4 separate regions of the Homo sapiens genome follow, and regions 2, 3 and 4 are each linked to region 1. Evidence: fine-mapped expression QTL. A gene starts in region 1. Each other region holds a variant in brackets. All regions are shown on one strand. Distances are from middle to middle.

Region 1 (5,147 bases):
GTTGTCTCATGGGTGACTGAGGGTTAGGGGAGATAACCTAGCCCACTGCCCCCAACCCTTGGGAGAATTCAAAGGCTTGAGCCCAGGCTGTGGTTCTTCCTAAGCCTTTCTTCCTGGGAGCTCCCGCCAATAGTAGGCAAGCCCTCAGGTAAGCAAAGAGTAAGGCAGTTTCCCTGCTGTTCTCCCCTCCTTCTTCCCTTCCCCTTCCTCTTCCCTACTTGCCCTCCCCAGTTTCTACTCCACACCTCCTTTTACTCACCTCTTCCTTCCTCATTACTTTCCTTCTCATGACTCTTCCCTACCTCTATCCCTCACTCCCTGCTCCTGAGTTAGATCCCTTCTCTCCAAGGCCCACCCCATATACCTTGAGTTTCATCTTGGCCATGCCCCTCCCCCACCAGGCTTTCCAGAATTCCTGCAGGGAGAGGCTTGTCTTCAAGGATATGCAGCATGCCAGTTTGGCAGTTTCCCGGGGTGCACATGTGGAGGGTGCACACATGAGGACCAGCTGCCTCGGCTTCTGCAGTTATGCATGTGTGTAGAGAGGACACAGGGTCGTATGTTACAGATGTATCCAGCCGAGCCAATCCTGGGCTGCAGAGACACATCCACATGCAACATGTGCCTCCCTGTGGGTAACCGGGACAGGTGCACGGGATGTGTTAGCCACCAGGAGAGAAGAGAAGGACTGCAACATTGACATTCTTCCTGCCCCTGGATTTACCAGCTGGAGTACCAACAGGAATCTCAAAATTTCATTTCCTTTAGAAGGAAGGAAATGCCTCTTGGGGAGTCCAGTAAGGCAGAGGACGGTCCTACCTTTCTGGTAACTAGTTGTTTATAGTGAACCGAGAGGATAACCAAAGACGAGACCTTGGCCAGACCTGGGTGTTCTGACTGTGAGCTCACAGTCTGCTTTGAGTAGGGTCTCCGCTACCTACCACATGCCTTGGACAAGTCACTTTACTCTTTTGGGCCTCAGTTTCCTTATACATCAAATGAGGGTTGCTGAGAAGATCAAACAAGTGAAGAGTTGTAAAGATGCTGTGCAAACACTTGGCGCCACTGCACCCTTCACTGATTCTTGTAATAATCATGAAAAGTCAAAGTGCGTGTGTGTGCGTGCACGGGGCGCTCGTTATTCATAGGTCCCTTACCAGGATTCGAGAATCTGAACTGGGCCCCAGGACTGGGTGGGCGCGATCGCCCCAGCCCCCACTCCCAGCCTAGGGCCGGCGCGGTCGGGTTTTCCTCCAGCAGGCGGCGGGCTGACGGCTGCAGGGCGCGCTAGGCACGTGAGGTGGCAGCGCCGTCGCCAGCTGCAGAGGTGCAGCCCTGGCCGCCCGGCTCGCCTTCCGCAGGGGCTGCCCGTGCCGCTGGACCGCGGAGACCGCCCTCCCGGTTCCGGGGCTCGCGGCCTGCCCACCTCCCTCCGCGACTGCGGCCCCAGCCCACTCCCGCCCCACCGTGCGTCCCCGCGCCACCCCTGCCAGGACCGTGAATCCCTCTGGTTTCCGCGGCGGTGTTGGTCGTCTCGGAAGCGGGTGCGCTCGGCAGCGGGCAGGGCAGCGGGCGCAGAGGCTGCCTTCGGCTCCTGCAGCTCCGCGGTTCGCCACTGGGGGCTGCCGCGCCGGAGAGCTCGGCGGGGACGGTGCGCACGGCCGCCGGGTTCCTGGGCGCCTCTGGCCGCTGGGTTTTCTCCACTGCTGGCCCTGCGCTGTCTCCGCAGCCCGCCCGACTCCCTCCCAGATTGGAGCGTGTGATCCGTGTGTGTGTGTGTGTGCGTGTGTGTGTGTGTGTGTGTGTGGAGCGGAGAGAGAAACCGGGTACGCGCGTATGCGCGCGCGCGTGGGGGGCAGTGTGCATGCGGGGAGTACGGGGGAGTGTGTTTGTGTGTGCGTGTGGGTGTGAGTGCCTGGCTCCCTCTCGCTGAGACACACATACACTCACACATACACAACCCGGCAGGCTCGTCTGAACTTGAAGACACCCCACATTCCAAGATGCCCGAGGTTCCTGGGAATGCCTGGGGTTCTTCGATCCGGAAAATCCTACCGGCATCCTCCTAGGGAGGGATTATTATTATTATTTTTCTTTAATCTGGAAGAGAAGAGAACAAGTTGTGCTTTTCCCCCCTTCTTCTTGCTAAATGCCATGGATATAACTGAATAAGCGGCTCAGGGCTTTCCCCGCGTGGACGTCCGAGGCCACCATCTGCCTGCATTCGCCGGAGCCGCCGGAGGGTTTAGCTCGAGTCTGTCTCGGGCGGGGAAGGATGCGTGGCCGAGCCGGGGAGCCCGGGCGCCCCGCGGAGCCGGCCTCGGTGCCACCCAGCCGGGGGTAGATGCTGCCTCGCCCAGGTGAGTGGTCGCCGGCGCTGCGTCTTTGCGATCCCGGGTGTCCGCGGGAGCTCGGCGCGGGGCTGAACGCACCCGAGGGAACCGGGAACTTTGCATCCCTTTCTTTTTCTCTTGAAGACTCCCCGCATCCTAGGTGCTCATGCGGACACCCCCTTCTCTTTTCGCCCATCCTTATCGCGAGAGATTTCCTTTCCTTTCTTTAGTCTTTATTTCCTACAGTGGGGGTGAAACTCTGGCGGGGAGCGGGGAGAGCCGGGTCCATGTGAGACTGGAGAGCCGGATGGAGAGACGGGGAGCCACGGGTGGATGGAACCGTTGAAAACAGCAGGAGAACTTTGCCGCCAGACCACTCTGTTGCATCTCCGCACATGCAAGGCCTGGCTAGAGCCATTGCTGGGGGCTAGGTGGGGGCGCCGGGGACTCCCTGAGCTCTGTGGACTGGGTGGGGTGGGGTAAAGCCAAGTGCGGAAGGGTTGATGCAGAGCGGATGGGAGGAAGGAAGGCATGGTTGCAGTTTGTGGGGGCAGGTAGGGCAGGTTCAGGGACCCTATGCTGGCCTCAGGCAGAAAGCAGATCAGGGGGATTGTGTGTGTGTGCAGCTTGGGGCATCAGAATGGCATGATGAAGCAATATGGAAAGTGGCATTAGCCATGCCTGGGTTCCTAGGTCTCTGTCTCCCACCCAGCCCTGCCCTGGTTCTAAGGTTGGCCTGGGCAGGGAGGAGGGAGAGCAGTAGACCGTTCCGAGGTGGACAGTGCCTTACTTTGCACAGACCTTCTGAGGGAGGTGTCCTACTCGTCTTCCCATCAGCCCGGTACAAAGGACAGAGACAGAGAGTTCTAGGGAGATAGAGCCTCTGAAAACCAGAGCAGGAGGGAGAAGAGAGCCTGAGTGGAGACCGCAGAGGGACTGAGCCAGACTGTTGCCAAATGCACCCGGCGACAGCAGACAGCTGCAGACGGACAGACACCTGCAGGGACAGGGAACATGTCAGAGCCTGCACTCTTGAGTTGGAGTTACAGGCATGGCTATAGATGATGACCCCCTCCCCTGGCCACAATGGAGTGTGTGTGTGTGTGTGTGTGTGTACGCGTGTGTGTGTGTACGCATGTGTATGTTTCAGGGAGGTGGCAGCTGTGGCCTCCATGGCCTGATTGGCCTTCTAGTACTGGGGGAGGGGGAAGCTTCAGGAATTTGACCCCCTGCTGCTGGGGAGGAGCAAAGCTAGGGAGGAAACTGCCATTCCCTGGGCTGTGAAGTTCCCAGGGGCCAGGGCTAGAGGTTCTATGTGGGCTGTTATTCTTGTGTGGGGGCCGATTTGGAACTCAAGGTGGGGAGCAAGGGAACTAGGTCTTGGGGTTGTGCCCTGGTCTGGTCGCTGCCCTCTGGCAGGAGCTTTATATAGCCACACACAGCAGAGCCCTGAGGGTAGTGTCATTTCCTTGTGGGGTACATCAGAGGCTGAAGGGGGTCAGAGTCCTGTAGGGAGGATTCAGAAGCTCCAAAAGGCCTGCACTTGGAGCCGTCATCCTCCGCCGACCATGCCAGCTGCCTGGGCCCTTCTGCTGATGCTGGAATGTCATCTTTCCCTTCTGACTCTGGCTGGGAGTGCAGAGTTGCATCTCCCTCTGGCCTCCTCACATGCTTCTGCTCAGGCCCCCTGCCCAGCCCTCAATTTAGAGTTTCTGGTCTAATTCCTGACCAGGAATGTAATTATTTATCTTCCTGCCCTCATCCTGGGGATGCAAACAGCAAACTTGGCATTTCTGTTTCAGCCTCTGGAAGGTTGGCTCCCAGTTCCATCTCCTGTCTAGAAGAACTGGGTGCCTGCCTGCTGTGGGCTGGAGGCTGGGGTTCAGGGCTCCTTCTTCTGTGAAGTGCCAGTTCTTTGCTCAGGCCCAGAAACGTGAGAAGCTGGGGAGTCTGGCCTGAGAGAGGGTGAGCTGGGAGCTTCCAGGAGGTGAGGCTGAGGAGGAGAAGCAAGATAGATGGGAAGAAAATGCAGTCAGAGTGGGTGGGGCCACCGGGGAAACCAGGCAGCCTTCTGGCCAACTGAGTCCTTCTTTGACTGAAGGAGGAATTGCTCTTCTTATCTTTGCTTCAGCTCCAAAGGAAAAAAAAAAAACAGGGATTCTGGCCTCCAAGTGCCAGTTTGCCAAGCCTCTTCAGCCTGTGGGGTTGAGCAGGTTCTGCTCTCCTTTTTTGCAGGGTGGATGTATAGAGGCTTATAAGCTCCTGGCGTGGGGTCTGTCTACCCAGGGACAGTGGAGAAGTGAAATTGGAATTAATTGTTTTCAGAAACTCCCCTTTCCTAAGGTAGATATTAGCATCTAGGGAGTTCACAGTCTGATGGGGGAGGCTGCTAGACTGGAAGCAGAGACATATAGCAATAAACAACCTGGGATGGCCAAGTGGAATTGGACTCTGAACAAGAGCAACAACAATTTGAGTATTTTGTGATTTTCCTTTGGGTAGGGGTGGAGTTTTAGGGTCCAACTTATTGAAGGGATAGAGTTGTCATATAATGGAATGAAACCTCAACTTGGGTGGCCTGGGTTCAAATTCTGGCTCTGCCATATCTTGGTTAACAATGTGAGTCTTTGTGTTTTGACCTGGTAAAATAAAATAATAGCATGTACCCAATAGATGTATTATGACCTGATGTTTTCCTGGCAGTCCCCAAACCGCTTTTCAGATCTGGGAGAGTCTTCAGTGGAAACAGGGAGGGTTGGAAGGGAGAGAGAGTTCTTCAGAGACATGGAGGATAGTACAGCCAACTTCCCCCTG
Region 2 (5,147 bases), 170 kb after region 1:
CACTACTCATCTCTTTGAGATTTGCTTCATCTAACATTGGAAGAAAAAATCTTTTCTCTATGGGGTTATCTCCAAAGAGATAACATATGTGGAAACACTTTGGAAACAAAACACCATGTGCATTTCAGCTCACTGGAGCCATTTTTTTTACCCCTCAGCTGAGTCTGAGTGATTACTATAAGAAAGATGGAATCAGGGGCTCCAGACATGGGCTCTTGAGATCTCCCTTCTCTTTACTTGTCTGAACCTCAGGCTCCTCACCTGCTAAATGGAGATAATGATAACTCACCAGGTTGTTGTAACATTGGAAAGAGATGACAAAGCGTGAAAGAAGAACATCTTCATAAAGTGTGAAGTGCTTCTAGTAGCAGAAATCTGACTTTTCCAAATTTGGGGGTTATTTCCGTCATTCTGAAAACCAAAAATAAAATTCTAAGGCCCACCAACCAATTGAATGAACCCCTCCATTCAGTCAAGAGCATTCCAAAGTTAACCTGAAAAAACTTGGCCATGATAGGAATGAGGAGCCACATGTGCCTCATTATACCCTCCTCTCTTTTGGAATTACTGACAGAACAGACTCTTTAAGTCTGATAAGAAACATTTACAATCTATTTTCTCTGAATCCTGCTACCTGGAGGCTTCATCTGCATGATAAAACCTTGGTCTCCACTACTCTTTATTGTTACCCAGACACTCCTTTTTATTGATAATAACTCAGCCAATTGCCAATCAGAACATCTTTAAATCTACCTATTACCTCAAAGCGACCCACCTCTTGCCTTTCCAGTTTGAACTGATGTACATCTTACATGTATTGATTGATGTATTAGGTCTCCCTCAAATGTATAAAAGCAAGCTGCACCCAGACTACCTTGGGCACGTGTCTCCAGGACCCCCTGAGGCTGCATCATGGGCATGTCCTTAACCTTGGCAAAATAAACTTTCTAAATGGATTGAGACCTATCAGATACTTTTGTGAGTTCACAATTCTGTCAAAGCATTCCAGAAGGAGGTAGTTCAGAGCTGGTATGGGAGCTCCATGGAGTCAGGGACTGAAGCAGGTCAATTGCATTATTCTTAATGTGTGGCTCACTGCTCTTGCTCTTGCTCACATTCTCTACCTGGGGACTTTCTCTGGTGTGGCCTATCCACAGAGGAGTCGCCAACCCTGGGATCAGCCCTCAGCCTTTAACAGAGTTTGGAGGATTAATACCCCAGCTTCCTCAGCCTTGGAGAAAGGCAGATACATGGTCTATGCTCACTCCCAGGGGCTCCCATTAGGGGTGGGCCTCATTGCCCACAGTGGTAACTTGCTTAGCAAAATGCCCTGTGCTGACTTCCTTCCACACTTCCTTACCACAGTTTCCTGAGCCCACCTCCCAAATAAACTACTTGTATTCAAATCCTTGTCTCAGGGTCTGCATCTGGGAAACCCAAACTAAGACAGGCACCAACCACTTTAAAGAATCCCACCCACTGACTTTTGCTGCTAGCTTATTGTATTTCCTCCAGTGCACATTGGAGGCTGAGGAAGGCGATTGTCTGTTCACGCATGTTGCTCCCCATTAGATAAAATAACGTTCTGCCGGGAAGTTAGAAGTGGGGAATGGATGTTGGGGAGGCGTATGATGGCCACAGAGCTGCATGGGCGAAAGCATCGCTGCTGTGAGCATTTCTTGGCACCTGCCCACACAGTCCCAGCAACCAGTAGCCAGTTTGTGGCTGAGGCCAGCCTGGGGGGGAAGCTGATGGGGCTGCTTTCCTGCCTGTCTGTGAGTGTTCTTTTCTCATCTCTGGAGACACAGAGCAAAGCAAAGAGGGAAGCTTACTTCTTGACAATTAGGCCTATGGTCTGGCATGAATGTGTGTGATGGGAGTGGGCACCCTGTGGGTGACAGAAGGGATCACAACAAGAAGTCAAATTAATGTCCACCATCTTCAGGGTCTCAGAGGTGGGGCAGGAAGAATGGCACAAAACCACAGGACGCGATGGGCCACCCCGGGGTGAATGCAGGGCCATGCAGCCAAGCACTGTGGATGAACGAGCTCGTTAACTCTTTACAAAAGAGAGCTATTTCCAGCAGGGGTGGGCTCCAAAGGTGGGCTCCGCTGTGCTCTGCGGCTGTGGGGCTGATGCTGTGGTTAAGAGTGCTGATCCAGATATGCGAATGAACTCCGATTGCATTGTAAAGGAGGTGAGCGGCAGGAAATGAAGCATGGAAGAGATCTGTTAAACACCAAACCTTTGCACTAGGTCATTAGTCAGTAATGGTACTAAGTAAAGGAGCTTCTCAGTTTAGCAATTAGCCCCGCAAAAGGTTAAAACGTAAATGAATTGCTTGGTGAAATTAGTCCACTTGGGCTTTTCCATGAGCTAACTGCCTGGCTTGAGAGGAACATATTCTGGGGGGCTATGAGAGCAGGTAGAGTGGAGTGTAAGCTGTGTCCTGGGGTTAAGGTGGGATTTGGAAGGAAGGAGGCTGTGCGGGGTCAGGGTGAGGGGGTGGTAGCTGTTTTGGGTGAAACCAATGAAGACAGAGACAGAGGCAGGAATGATCAGGCCCAGTCAAAGGCCTGTGAGGGCCCCTGGTGTATTCATCAGCTGCTGCCACAACCATGTTGCATAACAAAGAACCTCAAACTCTAGGTGGCTTACATCCAAGAATATTGAATTTCCTTAGTCATAGCTCTGCAGGTTGGCTGGAGTTGAACTGGTCTGGCCTGGGCTGGGCTGGGCAGGACTGCACTTGGCTTCAGGCTCCAGTTCTGATTTCAATCTTCTCTGTGTATCTCATCCTGGAGCCCCAGGAGAGGGGTAGTGGTTCTCCAGGTATGTTCTTCTCATGGTGATAGCAGAAATGCAGGAAGGCAAGCCCACCTGCAGAAATGAACGTCAAGCTTCTGTTGGTATCACACCTGCAAA[A/G]TCCCGCTAGCCACAGCAAGTTACATGGCCAAGCCCAAAGGCAAGGTGCAGGGAATGAACTGCGCTCAGCATCAATCCATGAAAGGCTGTGGAGGTGCTGCTGTATCACAGGCTGGTAAAGAAACAGGACCAATAATTTGCGACACTTGACTTTCCTGGCAGAAAGCCCCCTTAGAGGGCAGTGGTTCTCAAACCTGAGCAAGCATGAGAATCACCTGGCAGGCTTGTGAACACACAAGTGCAAGACCCTGCCCCTTGAGTTTGTAATTCAGTAGGTACCGAGTGGAGCCTGAGAATTTGCACTTCTAATACATTCTCTCCGGGATGCTGATGCTGCTGGTCTTGGGACTTTACTTTGAGAATCACTGGTCTAGGAAAAGGATAGGAATGCAGAGGTTGGAAGAGGGCAGAGTATGGATAGCCTTGAATGTCACACAAAGTAGCTATGTTTCTGAGCCCTTACTGCACTCCAGGTACTGTTCTAAAGCTGTTCTGCATGTTTTCTTATTTGGACTCATGTTAACCCTATGAGGTGTGATCCATGATTGCCACTTGACAGATGAGGACTCTGAGCCATAGGGAGGTGGCGTGACTTGCAAGGTCTCACAGCTTGGAGGCAGGGGAGCTTGAGCTTGGAACAAGTGCTGTCCTGACTTTGGGCTTCCTCCTGTTGCTGATGAGAAGCCAGGGTCTAGTTCTGAGGGGAAGAATGACCTGGGGTGAGGAAAACTCTGTATTTGGAACCAGATATTCATTTATTCAGTCAATAAATATTTATTGTCTGGTCAAGACCTCAGGATTGGGAAAAGACAGGCACAGCTCTTGCCTAGGGAAGTGATAGGAAGGCAGAGGTGGGAACAGGGAAAAGTATGGGTGGCCTTGAATATCAAGGAGCTTACATTCTTACTGGGGGGAGAGATGAAAAGTTCAAAAATGTACACGAGGAAGAAAAATAAGCAGTGTAACGAGACCGAGACCAGAGGGCTACAGTTTTATATGGGTGGTTAGGAATCGCCTCTGTAAGGAGTGATGTTGGAGTGGAGACCTGAATGGAGTGAAAGAGTCAGGCAGGTGAAACAGCACATACAGAGGCCCTGGGGAGGGATGCATTCATCCTGTTGGAGAAGTGGCAAGGACTCCAGTGCCTCTGGAGGAAGAGTGGCAGTGAATGAGTGAGAAGACTGGACAGGGCTAGATTACATAGGCCCTTGCTGGCCATGATGAGGCCTCGGATTTTATCTTGAATGAGACGGAAACCTCTGGGGCTGGGGCTGGGGAGATTTGAAAGTAGGAGACTGGCATGATGTGATTAAGAAAGAAGATTCTGCTGCTGGTTGGAGAATATACCGCAGCAGGCAGGGATAGCATCAGGGAGACCAGTTACGGGATGGTTGCAGAGTTTTAGCTGTATCTTGAGACCCTGTTGCTCCTGAATGTTCACATCCATAAAATGGGAGAAGGACCCCTTCTTTCTCTCCCACTTGGGGCAGGAGGAGATTAGGGTGTGCGCCTGTGAGTGAGCAGGAAGTACTTAGGTAGGGAACAAAGCAGCATGTTGTCATGATTTTTCTGGCAGAATCCTTGGGCCTATGTCTGCCCAGCCTGGGAACCTCACTGAGGCCCAACTCATAGCCGTGAGTGGAGAGGAGTTTTGGATCTCCCCCTGCAGAGCAGAGCATCCCACGCCATCACTGACCCAGCTCCTCTGTCAGCATTCCCCACCCCCTCTACCCCACAACCTTGTACTCTGATAGGGAGTAATTATTTATATTTTTGCTTAATTAGCTCATTAGGTGTGTGCTGTGGCATTTCTGACAATAAATCACCTACTCTAGTAGCTCATAAGTGCATTTTTGGCTGGTGCCTGGCCCTGGCAATGAAGGTGGCAGTTGTCATACATGAATGTGGCCCTTGGTCAGGGGCTCAGTGACCTGTGCTCTGACTCCCAAGGTGTGCGTGGACAGGTCGGGAGGCTGCCGAGGCACTGAGCATGGAGACAGGATCTTGGAAGCTGAGATGGTGGCAGCAGCGGCAGCCGGCACTGAACACCAGATATTTTTACCACCCGTCAAAATGCCACCGCGTGTGAGCCAGTGCCAAGGGCTGCTTCCCAAGGCTGCTTTGCTCTCCTCCCTCAAGCTTTGATTGTTGCTAGGAAAAAGGTCTGAGTGGAACAGGGAGGCTTTGAAGATTCCTGGGTTGGCTTGGCTGGTGCTCAGCA
Region 3 (5,147 bases), 200 kb after region 1:
GCCTCGTGTCCCCCCCTACCCCGCAACACCCACATCACCTCCCCACCACCCGGCCGGGGTGTGCTCAGGGAATGTGGACTCGCTCAAATGCCGGACTGAGCCCTGAGTGTTTGGAAAGGCGAGACTCCGCCTTTCTAATCACAAATGTAGCCTACAAGCAAGCGGCTTTGGATTGCTTATGGGTCTAGTGTTGTTTTTATTTCTTAATTTATTTTTTTTCCATTTCCCAGACTCCTCCTCTTCATTCACACGAATAATCGAGAGTTAATCGTACATATGAATGTGTGTTCCCAGCAGCCCTGGTAGTGGGTAATTGTTGCCAATTGACAAGAGGAGGGAATTATTCTGTTTCCACACTTGTTTGGGGGAAGACTGTGGGGTTCCCTGCTCAGAGCTCTCATTACTCCCAACCACCCCACACCCGACACTGGAAGGGGTGAGTGACTGACCCCCGATACCTGACCTAGTTTCCTTTGCTTCTCAAACATGACATGCCACACCCATCACAGAAGCTTAAACCAGAAGGGTAATTTCCTGGGTTCTTACGTGTGGGGAGGGAGGAGGGCTTCATGCTATAGGGCACAAGGGATCTTAACTTCTGGAGTTGCTTTGGGCTTGTTGCCACTCTTTCTGGGAAGCTGGCATGGAAAGTCCCCCTTGAGCATGTGGCAGGCCAGGAGGGCTTCTCTTAAGGAAAGCAGCAGGGGTGGCAGAAACAGCAGTGGACTTGGAGTCCGAAGTTCTGTGTCTGGGCTCCACAGTCACATGAATAGCCAGCTGAATAACTGGGGCAAGACCCTTTTATCTGTTGGGACCTGAATTTCTCAATTTGCAAAAATACTGGGATTGTACTAGGTCTCCAGTCCCTTTCCAGTTCTATAGGCCTATTAATTATTCATGACTCTAGATGTTAGGCTTTTTTGCTTAGTGACACCAGAAGCACAAGCTGGTTACAGCAGTGCCCCTCCTTTTTACTGGACACAGAGAATTCTAGAAGCCTTGGAGGGGGAAAGCTGAATCTTTTTAGAATCATAGGCTTTTGAAGCTTGGGGAGGTGTTTGCAATCATCCCATCTTTAACCCTCCCTCTCCCTTCCAGAGAGCATAAAGGAATTGCCGAGGGTCACACAGTGAGTTCATGACCAGGTCAGGGTAGAAGCCAAGGCCACCTGCCTCCTGGCAGTGGTATTTGGGATCCATGACCCTGTCTTCACTCTGCCTAGGGCTTTTCTGTGTCCAAAGGCTGTCCCATGTTTGTTCCTTAAGAAAGTGGCTCAGGGTGGGATGGGGGGATGCCTGCTCTTGGTTTCTTGAGGAGGGTCCATCCTTGGAAATTACAGGGTGGAATGGGAGGGGTGCATAGACTCCTTTCCATCTAGGGATAACCCCTCCCTGCCAGACAGTGGCAAGAGAAGGGGAAGAGGAGATGTGCCCACGGAGAACCTGCTGTAGACAGATTGGAATGACTTTCCCCGGCATCCCTGTCCCATGTCTACTCATCAGCAATTCACTACCTCTCCCTCAGTCTCTCCAACTCATTCTTTCCTCTCCCAACTCCTTCCATAGACCTCTATTTTCTCTCTTTTGTTCTTCCTTCTTCCACTTGCCAACCACGCAGCCTACAAAGCATACAGGCAAGACCATTCTGGACCAAAAAGTTCCAATGGCCTCAGACCTGGACCCGAGCTGCTGGCCCCCAACCCCACTCTGGAACACACAAGGAGGGATTTGCAACTGTCTATGAAGAATTACCTTCGGCTCTAGTCCCAGAGCCTCCAAATCCCAGGCCTTCCTCCTTCCTCACTCTCCTCCCTCCCCTCTCTTCTCTTCATCCTTCTTTTTTTTTCTCCTTTTACTCTCTGCCTTTCCCAGTCCCTTTCTGGTCCTGACAAGGTCATTAACAGATCAGGCCAGTCCCTCCTGAGACCTCAAGTTATAATAATTTTCGAGGCCAGTCCCAGGGCTGAAGCACATCCTTTCTATGGTCACAGAAGCACCCACAGAATTGGGCAACTTGAAAGGAAATCTCTTCCACCCTTTCTCTTTTCCCTTCCTGTTTTTTCCTCTTCTCTTTTCTCCCTCCTCATCTTTCTCATTCATCCTTTCAAACTATAGCCATTGTGGAAGTGGTCTCAAACACCAGCTTTCTTTTTGGCCTTTGGATTCAGACACACAGAGGGAAGGTGGTGAACAGTGGAAGGAACCAACTGACTGTCTATTCTCATCAGCGGTTCCGAGTTCTATCGTGACATGATATGTACTTGCTCTTGTGTTTGTCATGTTTCTGACTTGGAGTTTTGGAAAGCAGCATCCCTGTGGTCAGAATATAAATGCCAATCTTCTCCTTTGCTAGAAAAAAAATGTACAGTAAAATGTACAGTTTTAAAAACAACCACTAACCACACTCCTTGGGCGGGGGAAAAAAAAA[AC/C]ATTCTTATGTCTGTGAATGTCTGCTGTTCATTTCTCTGGAAACTCTGGGGTTTTCTAAAGATGGCTTTGAAGTGGCATTTTCTCTTGCACCTGTGTTTGTTACTGCCTGGTGGGAGCCTGCTTCTTGCCAAGTTCATGTATAAGGTGGGGGAATCTTCTGAAATAATAGAAAATGGGATCATCTTCCCAGAGTAAAGAAAGGTAGAGAAATCTGAAGAGAAGCTTCAGGCTAAGAAAAGAACAGTCCATCCCCAGCTGTCCTGACTGTCCTACCTGACATCTCCATTCTCTGATATACCAGCCCTACCTACTTTTTCCTGGACTGTGGTCACCACAACACCTGACTACTAGGGGCATGTAGGTATCTTCTACCCGTTTTGGTTGAGCCCTGGATGGTATTTTTTTCAAAAGGGTCTTTTACTGGGAAACCATGGGAGAACAAACCAAAACCCAAACTCAAGGTATAGAAACAAACATGCTTCTGGAACACAGCTTCCCAACCTTGTCTTTTCTAGTATCTAGATCAGCACTGTCCAATAGAATAAAATGTAAGCCGCATTGTAATTTTAAATTTTCCAGTAGCCATGTTGAATCAAATATAAAGAAACAGGTGGAATTAATTTTAATCTTATATTTTAACTCAATATATCCAAAATATTATTGTAACATGTAATCACTCAAATTATTAGTAAGTTATTTTATGGTATTTTTTGGTACAAAGTTTTAGAAATCTGATTTGTATTTTACATGTATGGCATATATCAATTCAGATGAGCCCTCTTTAAAGTATTTTACATGTATGACACATATCAATTCAGACTAGCCCTCTTTAAAGTACTTGAGAGCCATATGTGGCTAGTACTGGCCACTGTACCAGACAGTGCGACTCTAGACATACAATTGACTTGAAAGCACAGCTTTTAGAAGAGGAAGGAAACTGACAATTATTGAGTACCTACAGCTTCCAGTTACTGTGCTTGTTGCTTCAAATATGTTTCTCACTGAATCATCACTAAAACCTTTTTAGGTAGATAGTATTATGCCCATATTATAAATGAAGGGACTGAAGCTCAGAGGGGTTAAGTAACTTGCCCAAGGTCACACAGTTAAGTCTGGCTGCAAAGCCTTAGTTCTTCCCATGACATCACACTGCCTTCCCATCCTTTCTTCTTCCCGTCAACCTGTTATAGATTGTATTTTATACTGACTGAATGATTCACATTTGTAGCCTAATCAGGAAACCCTTGACTAGCCTAAGATCTGCGAGAAACCTCAGAGTGTTAATTCCAGGCAAGAGCACCTTGGTGAAGCAGTTCCTTCTGACCGTACACCGGCCTTTCTGGCCCTCCTTGCCTTGAAACACGTTCCCTCCCCTGGCCAGGAAAATTCCTCAGGATTCAGACTGCACTGCCCAGCCCACCCTGTGGTCACCCCTTCTTCCCTCTTGGTGACCTCTAGGAGGTTGCTTGTTGAATGAGCCTTCCATCTCCAGTCTTGTCTGGGCTGCTCTGCCCCAGGAGCCTATAACTTCTTCCCCCTAAGATAAAAAGCCTGACAACAGCTTGCTTCAGAGACAAAACCCATCTTCTCGCCTCTTTCTATTTTAATACCCCTGTCCCTATCAGGTAAGATACCTACCCAGATCCTCTTTCCTGATATACAGAAGCCTCCAGCTCTTCAATCTTTTGCAGAGGTGAGATAGCTGATACAATATTTGCCTAGTTGATTATTAAGCTTTCTGGAAAAACAGTTTGACCCCTTTCCCCACATTCTCGATAATGACATATCCCTCAGGTTTCCCTCAAGAGAATTTTCTATTTTTTCACCATTACAGTGTTGAAATTCGAAAAGACCTCAGGAACACTTTTTTGTTAAGGGATATAATTGTCAGCCAGGCTAGGCAACAGTCACTGTCTCAGGATTCCCCCTTCCCAAATGCAAAGTAACTTTTCTTTAAAAGTCTGTGAGTATTGATTTTTCATAAGTACAGCCTGAGTACTTCTGTATCTTCTGTTCTCAGTGTGCCTGCAGTGAAGGTCTCAGGGCTTCAGCAAGCTGGGTGGGGCTTTCTCTGTTCTTACAACCAGTGGGATTTCTGCAAACTGCTGCCAGAAAAATAGACACACTTATTCAAAAGAAGAGACTATTGGCAGGCAGCACTCAAAACCTGCATACACCGTTTTAAAGATCCCACCTAGATTATCAAACCTAGCCTTTCCATGTGATGCAGTTGGCAGCAAGAAGAATTTGTTGTGACAAGGAGGCTTCTCACAGGTAAATACCTGAGGTTTCTACCTTTGCATAATAGAATCAGGCCCATCCAGGTTACTGCCCCAATATCTAAAAGGAACCCTGTCACTTTCACAGTTTAAAAATATCTATTTGTGCTTTCAGCCCTTAAACCAAAGGTTGTAGCTTCCATCATCTCAATTAAGGTTCTGTACCTCACAGTCAGTCAATGTTTACAAGGCTCGTGGTTTCCCTTCCCTGAAGCTTCTATCAGAGAGAAATTGGCATGTTTTCCCCAGACCAAAGAGAGAAGCTAGCTTTTACCTCTAAGGCTATCCTGTGACCCCTATCATAGCTATTTAGGAACTTCTGACAGGTTCAGTGATCTTTCTCCATGTTCTCATTTTGTATAATGTGTGACATCTTTCTTTTGCTCACCTATTCTGAGGAAGTAGGCCCAGATTACAGGCTCTTCCCTGGTTATTTTCC
Region 4 (5,147 bases), 180 kb after region 1:
TAGCGTGTCCAGGGCAGGCCTCACCGAGAAGGTGGGATTTGAGGAAAGACTTGAAGGGGAGCTGGACTGAGGTCTGTGGGAAGGGCCCTCCAGGCAGAAGGAAGAGCCAGGGCAAAGCCTCCATGGCTGGAGTGTTTCTGAGGAGCAACGAAGAGGCCAGGGTGGCTGAAGCACAGAGTGCAGGGCAGGGTGGGCGAGATGGGGCAGAGAGGCAGTGGGGCCAGACCCCACAGGGCCATGTGGCCTTTGTAAGGACGCTGATTCGAGTGTTCACCCGACCTGTGCATGTTCACAGGTGCTCACAGCCTCAGGTCAATCCTTTTCCCTGCTCACATGCCCAGGGCTGCTTCCACGCTGGCCAGTGGACGCACAGTCACACTCACATACGTACCTACACGCACACACTGGCCAACGGCCACTCACTCACACAGCCCCCCTACTCCTACCGTGCCCGTTTGGGGTTCACCCTCCACTGCACCTGCATGTACCCCAGCAGAGCAGGGACGACTCCTCATCAGCCTCACTCCCATCTGCCACCCAGAATGGCCTCTCCCCAGCTGGAGCAGGAGAGGGAGGAGAGTGAGCCAATTTCTGGGGCTTCAGACCCATGCACCTCAATAAACAGTGCTGGAGAGACTCCCAGAAAATTACAGATGAGATAAGTCTGTGATTTACTCACACGTGATTTATTTACATGATTACTTCCACACTAAGATGACAGGCCCATATGGCCATCCTCCAGGGACCCTGGTGTGCAATTAATGGCTCTGTTCTGTGTTCATTGTCCCCATAGGCCCTGGCTGCTCCCAGACTTGGGGCAGGACAGAGGAAGGAGGATAATTACACTGCTGCTTTTAGTAATTCACAGGCAAAATCAGGATGGTGCACCTCTAGGCTAGGCCAGCCCCACCTTAAAGCTCCTGGCTAATGAACAAATCCCATAGGAAGGCTCCTCTGCCCATCTGGCAGAGACCCCAACCCCTAAAACTACCTGTGCCCTCAGGCGGCTCATCTTCTGCCACCAGGAGGGGTCCTGCTGCGAGGTGGGTGGAATGGATGGTGTTAGTCTGTAAGAGATGATAGAAAGATAAATAGAAGATAGACAATAATAAAGTATGTAAGCATTCACTATATATATAAATGATTTATTGAGTATATATTGTATGCCAGTGCTTGGTGTACATTACTTCTGATCCTCATATAACTCTGCAAATTGGGTTTGCAAACTGCTTTTACAAATAAGAAGACAAAAGCTACGGAAAGTTAAGTAAGGGAGTAAAGATATAGTCAATAAATTGTGGAGATGGGATTTGAGCCCAGGTCACTTTGATGCTAACTCCTGTGTGCTTTCGGGGTCAGGGACGTGCTGCTGCCCCTACTTCCACAACCCCAATATCCCATCCCCTTCCTCCTGCCTCCCCCGTGCTCCCATCACCCCTCTTCCAGTGATGTTCTTGTGAAATTCTAGAATGTTAAAAGCACAGAGAAGGAAAGTGAATTGCTCAAGGCTGAACAAGTCATGACAGAGTGGGAGTTAGAGCCTCATCCTCCAGCCTGGACATGAGGATGGCTGGTGGGTGGGGACGGCTCTGCTCCCCCACCCTCCCTCCTGCTGACTCCAGGGTTGGGAGTGCATCAGGACCTTCCACTTGGCTGGACAGAGTGGGGCTTCCCAGCTGCCCACCTGAGACCTCCTGCTATAGGTCGTCACTCTCCCCACCCTTAATTAATTCCTTCCTGAGCAGACTGCTTGTTAGAGACAGAGGTATCCAGGGAGAATCAGCAGAAACACAGCCCAGCGAAGTGCTGAGTGGGCTCCTCCTGACTGCTGGGTGGAAAGGGCAACTCTCCGTGGGGTGAGGCAGCAGGCAGGATGATGCAGCAACTCAGCAGCCGGATGCCCAGCTAGTCTCTCACCAGGGGGTCTGCCTCCAGGCATGCAGCTTGGAACAGCCCCCAAGGAAGTGTCAATAAGTTTCTCGGTCACTCATTCATGCACGAGTGCTGGCTGTCCCCATTATAAAAAATGGACACCTCACATTTATAAATGCTTCACCACTTACATACTGTGTCCAAGTAGATGTGCGTCTTAGGTTTTCCAGACGGTCCTTTGGGGGAGGTGGTAGTGTTCTCATTCCCGTTTGACAGATGAGGAGGCTGAGATTCAGAGAAGCAAAATCCCTTGTTCAAGATTGCTCAGCTAGCAGATGGTGGGGCCAACATTTGAAACTGATCTTCAAATACCAAATGCAAACATCATCATGGCTTCTTTTTATTGCATAAACATACTCTCAGCAGCATACTCTGTACTGAACAAATATCATAGTACTTAATTTTCACAAAGACACCA[T/C]ATGATTGCTGTTACGAACCCATTTTGCAAGTGAGAAAACTGTGAAGGCGAGGCTCAAACATGGGAAGTGACTCACCAGGCATGGCACAGTCAGTAAACCTTCTTCACTAGAGCACAAATTCACCCTGGGGGTCGATACAGGTTCCTTCTTATGATACAGCTTCTGATCTGACAGAGGGAGATGGTTATAATTGAAGGAAAAGGTGGGGCCCCAATGCCCCTCCATGAAATGACTGAGGGCTTCATTTTACCCAGATTTGCTTTATTAAGGGTGCAATAGTTTGAATGCTTGTGTCCTCTTTGAGATTCATAGGTTAAAACCTAATCCTGGATGATAGGATGAAGAAGTGGAGCCTGTAAGGGGTGATAAAGTCATGAGGGCTTGTGGCTACCGAGGGGGCTCTCTGTCTCTCTTGCCCTTCCACTGCTGCCATGTGAGGATACAGAAAGAAGGCCCTTATCAGACCAAATGCTGGCACCTTAATCTTGGGCTTCCAGCCTCCAGTTCTGTGAGAAAATTTTGTTGCTGTTTTTTAAAAATATAAATTATTCTGTGGTATTCTGTTAAGCAATACAAAGAAACTAAGACAAAGTGTTACTGTTGACTTCACCATTGGCATTGAAACAAAATACAGTGTTTACCATTCCTTCATTTATTGCCAGGCACCCCTAGCATTTAACACACTTTACCTCATTTAGTCCTGACTATATTCCTACACAGTAGGTACTAGTGTTCCTATTTAACTGAGGCAGAGGGTAAGTAATCTGCCTAGGGTCACGCAGCTAGTCATTGCTAGAGCAGGATTTGAACCCAGGCCCAGCTGCTGTGAACCACCATGCTGGATCTTCAGCGACTTCTTCCCAGGCATTTGATTCCTGCCAACTTCTGCTCTGGAGTTGCTCTACTCTTCATCCATTGGGGCACATGTAGAATAGCATCAGATGGCCAGGGGTTCTTTCTACCCCTCCCCAAATGCTGTCTCCTTCCCCAGATCTGACAGGACCACCCAAGCCCATAGACAATAGAACCAAGAAGCCCCTGCCGAGGGTGACTGCCACCCATATGTTCATCAGCCTCCCTGAAGTGACACATCTATTTCCAACAACCTCTCCTCTTCCTGCTCACCTGGTAGAATTGGCTTTGCGATATTTTTTGCCATTTTTTATTGTAAAATATACATAACATTTACCATTTTAACCACATTTGAGTGGACAGTTCACTGGCACTAAATACATCATATTGTTGTGCAGTCACTGTCACCATCCATTTTAGAACTTTTTCATCACCCCAAACTAAAACTCTGTACTCACTAAATAAGAATTCCCCATTCCTCACTCCCCCCAGCACCCAGCAACCACCCTGCTACTTTCTGTCTCTATGAATTTGACTACTCCAGGTCTTTTATATAAGTGGAATCACACAAGATTCACACAAGTTGTAGCATGTACCAGAATTTCATATAAAATGCTTCACAAATTTGCTGTCATCTTTCTGCAGGGGCCATGCTGACCTCTGCATGGTTCCAGTTTTAATGGAAATGCTGCCAAAGAGAGCATACGATAGCATTTTCAAGGAGGCTGGTGCTGGCTTTGCTCCGGGTGATGCCCCCATGAAATTATGGATCTGCCAACTGGCGTGAATGGTCCGACCAGGTTCATCATTAGGTGGTGTTTACTTGGTGTCTGCTGGCTGTTCTAGCGTGACTTGGGCACAGCTGGTGGGGAATCTTCACTTTGCACACGTCTGTGTTTATAACAAGGTATAATTGATCTGACACCTTCTGCATTTTTTCTCCAAGTGATGAGTTGTTGTTGAACAAGCTCTTCTCAGCTCCTCCAGGAGATAAATGACAAGTAGCATCATTGTAGTCATCGCCATTGTGGTACCAGATGACCCAGGAAGGGAGCAGACATGTTTATTCCTATTGTACTTGATTTCTCACACTCACCACAGAAGGCTAGTATTACTCTCCCATTTCACATGTGAGGAAACAGAGGTTCAGAGAGAGGAAAGTCACATGGTCTACAGTCACACATCTGGTCGGGGGCAGAACTAGCCTTCAAAGAGAGATTTCTGTCTGAGTCCAAAGCCTACACTCTTTCCTCTAAGATATGCCAACCCAGTCCCTGGGGGCTGGAAGCTAAGGACAATTAAATACAATTAAATAGAGAAGACTTCTATATCTGTGGAGACCTGAATGAGGACACACACACATACACAGAATGAGAGAGAGAGAGGCAGGCCTTACATGGGCTCAAGAGCTTGCCTGGGTTGGCTGAGCCTGCAGTCGTGGGGACACTGTTTAAGCAATGTGGCTTAACAGCAGTCCTGGGAAAGCACAGGGCCTCTCCATTGACAGTCTGCTCAGTGTGACCACCAGTGGGATGTGGCTTCTAGAGAATCCAGTGTACTTCCAGGGAGGGGGTGGTGTCCACAAGTGTGATGTCTGACTGGGGCAATGTAGGGTCTGACTACTGAGAACCCCCAAAGAGAAGGGCCAAAGACAAACTGACATGTGATCAGGTATGATCAGACGGGGCAGCCTGCCAGCAAACTAGAAACTGTGCTATGAGGAAATGGTTGGAGGAAATGGAAATGTGAATTCTTCAAGGTGGGATGAGAGAGTGGCCTCACAATATGGGAAGCAACAACATGTCCAAAAGAAAGAAACAGGCTTGTTCTGGGCAGCTGTGGGGTTGCATTGGGCTGGTGGGAGGAAGACGCAGTCTGTCAGACCACGGCCCCCATGAGTCACTCAGAGTTGTCCAGAGCTAGGATGACTGCCTGGCATGTCCT

The links.
Region 2: its variant is fine-mapped to the expression of LRFN2 in whole blood (TOPMed, PIP above 0.99).
Region 3: its variant is fine-mapped to the expression of LRFN2 in whole blood (INTERVAL, PIP above 0.99). The same link has a PIP of 0.9 or more in CD4 T cells.
Region 4: its variant is fine-mapped to the expression of LRFN2 in whole blood (TOPMed, PIP above 0.99). The same link has a PIP of 0.9 or more in blood mononuclear cells.

The regions. Positions count from the first base shown.
Region 1 is chr6:40,584,154-40,589,300 of GRCh38, reverse strand. It overlaps LRFN2 (leucine rich repeat and fibronectin type III domain containing 2), which reads left to right and starts at 1,937. Exons shown (of 3, transcript NM_020737.3): 1 at 1,937-2,360. RefSeq lists silencers at 1,505-1,574, 1,665-1,764.
Region 2 is chr6:40,417,078-40,422,224 of GRCh38, reverse strand. All of the region lies in intron 2 of LRFN2 (leucine rich repeat and fibronectin type III domain containing 2), which reads left to right. Among named protein-coding and RNA genes, the nearest start is that of TDRG1, 41 kb to the right of the region's middle. RefSeq lists enhancers at 1,536-2,171, 2,172-2,807, 2,808-3,444 and a silencer at 2,521-2,815. The variant A/G (reference allele first, on the strand shown) is at 2,927.
Region 3 is chr6:40,386,668-40,391,814 of GRCh38, reverse strand. LRFN2 (leucine rich repeat and fibronectin type III domain containing 2) reads left to right here. Exons shown (of 3, transcript NM_020737.3): 3 at 1-224. Among named protein-coding and RNA genes, the nearest start is that of TDRG1, 11 kb to the right of the region's middle. The variant AC/C (reference allele first, on the strand shown) is at 2,428.
Region 4 is chr6:40,406,613-40,411,759 of GRCh38, reverse strand. All of the region lies in intron 2 of LRFN2 (leucine rich repeat and fibronectin type III domain containing 2), which reads left to right. It also overlaps the pseudogene RNU6-250P. Among named protein-coding and RNA genes, the nearest start is that of TDRG1, 31 kb to the right of the region's middle. RefSeq lists an enhancer at 1,751-2,252. The variant T/C (reference allele first, on the strand shown) is at 2,351.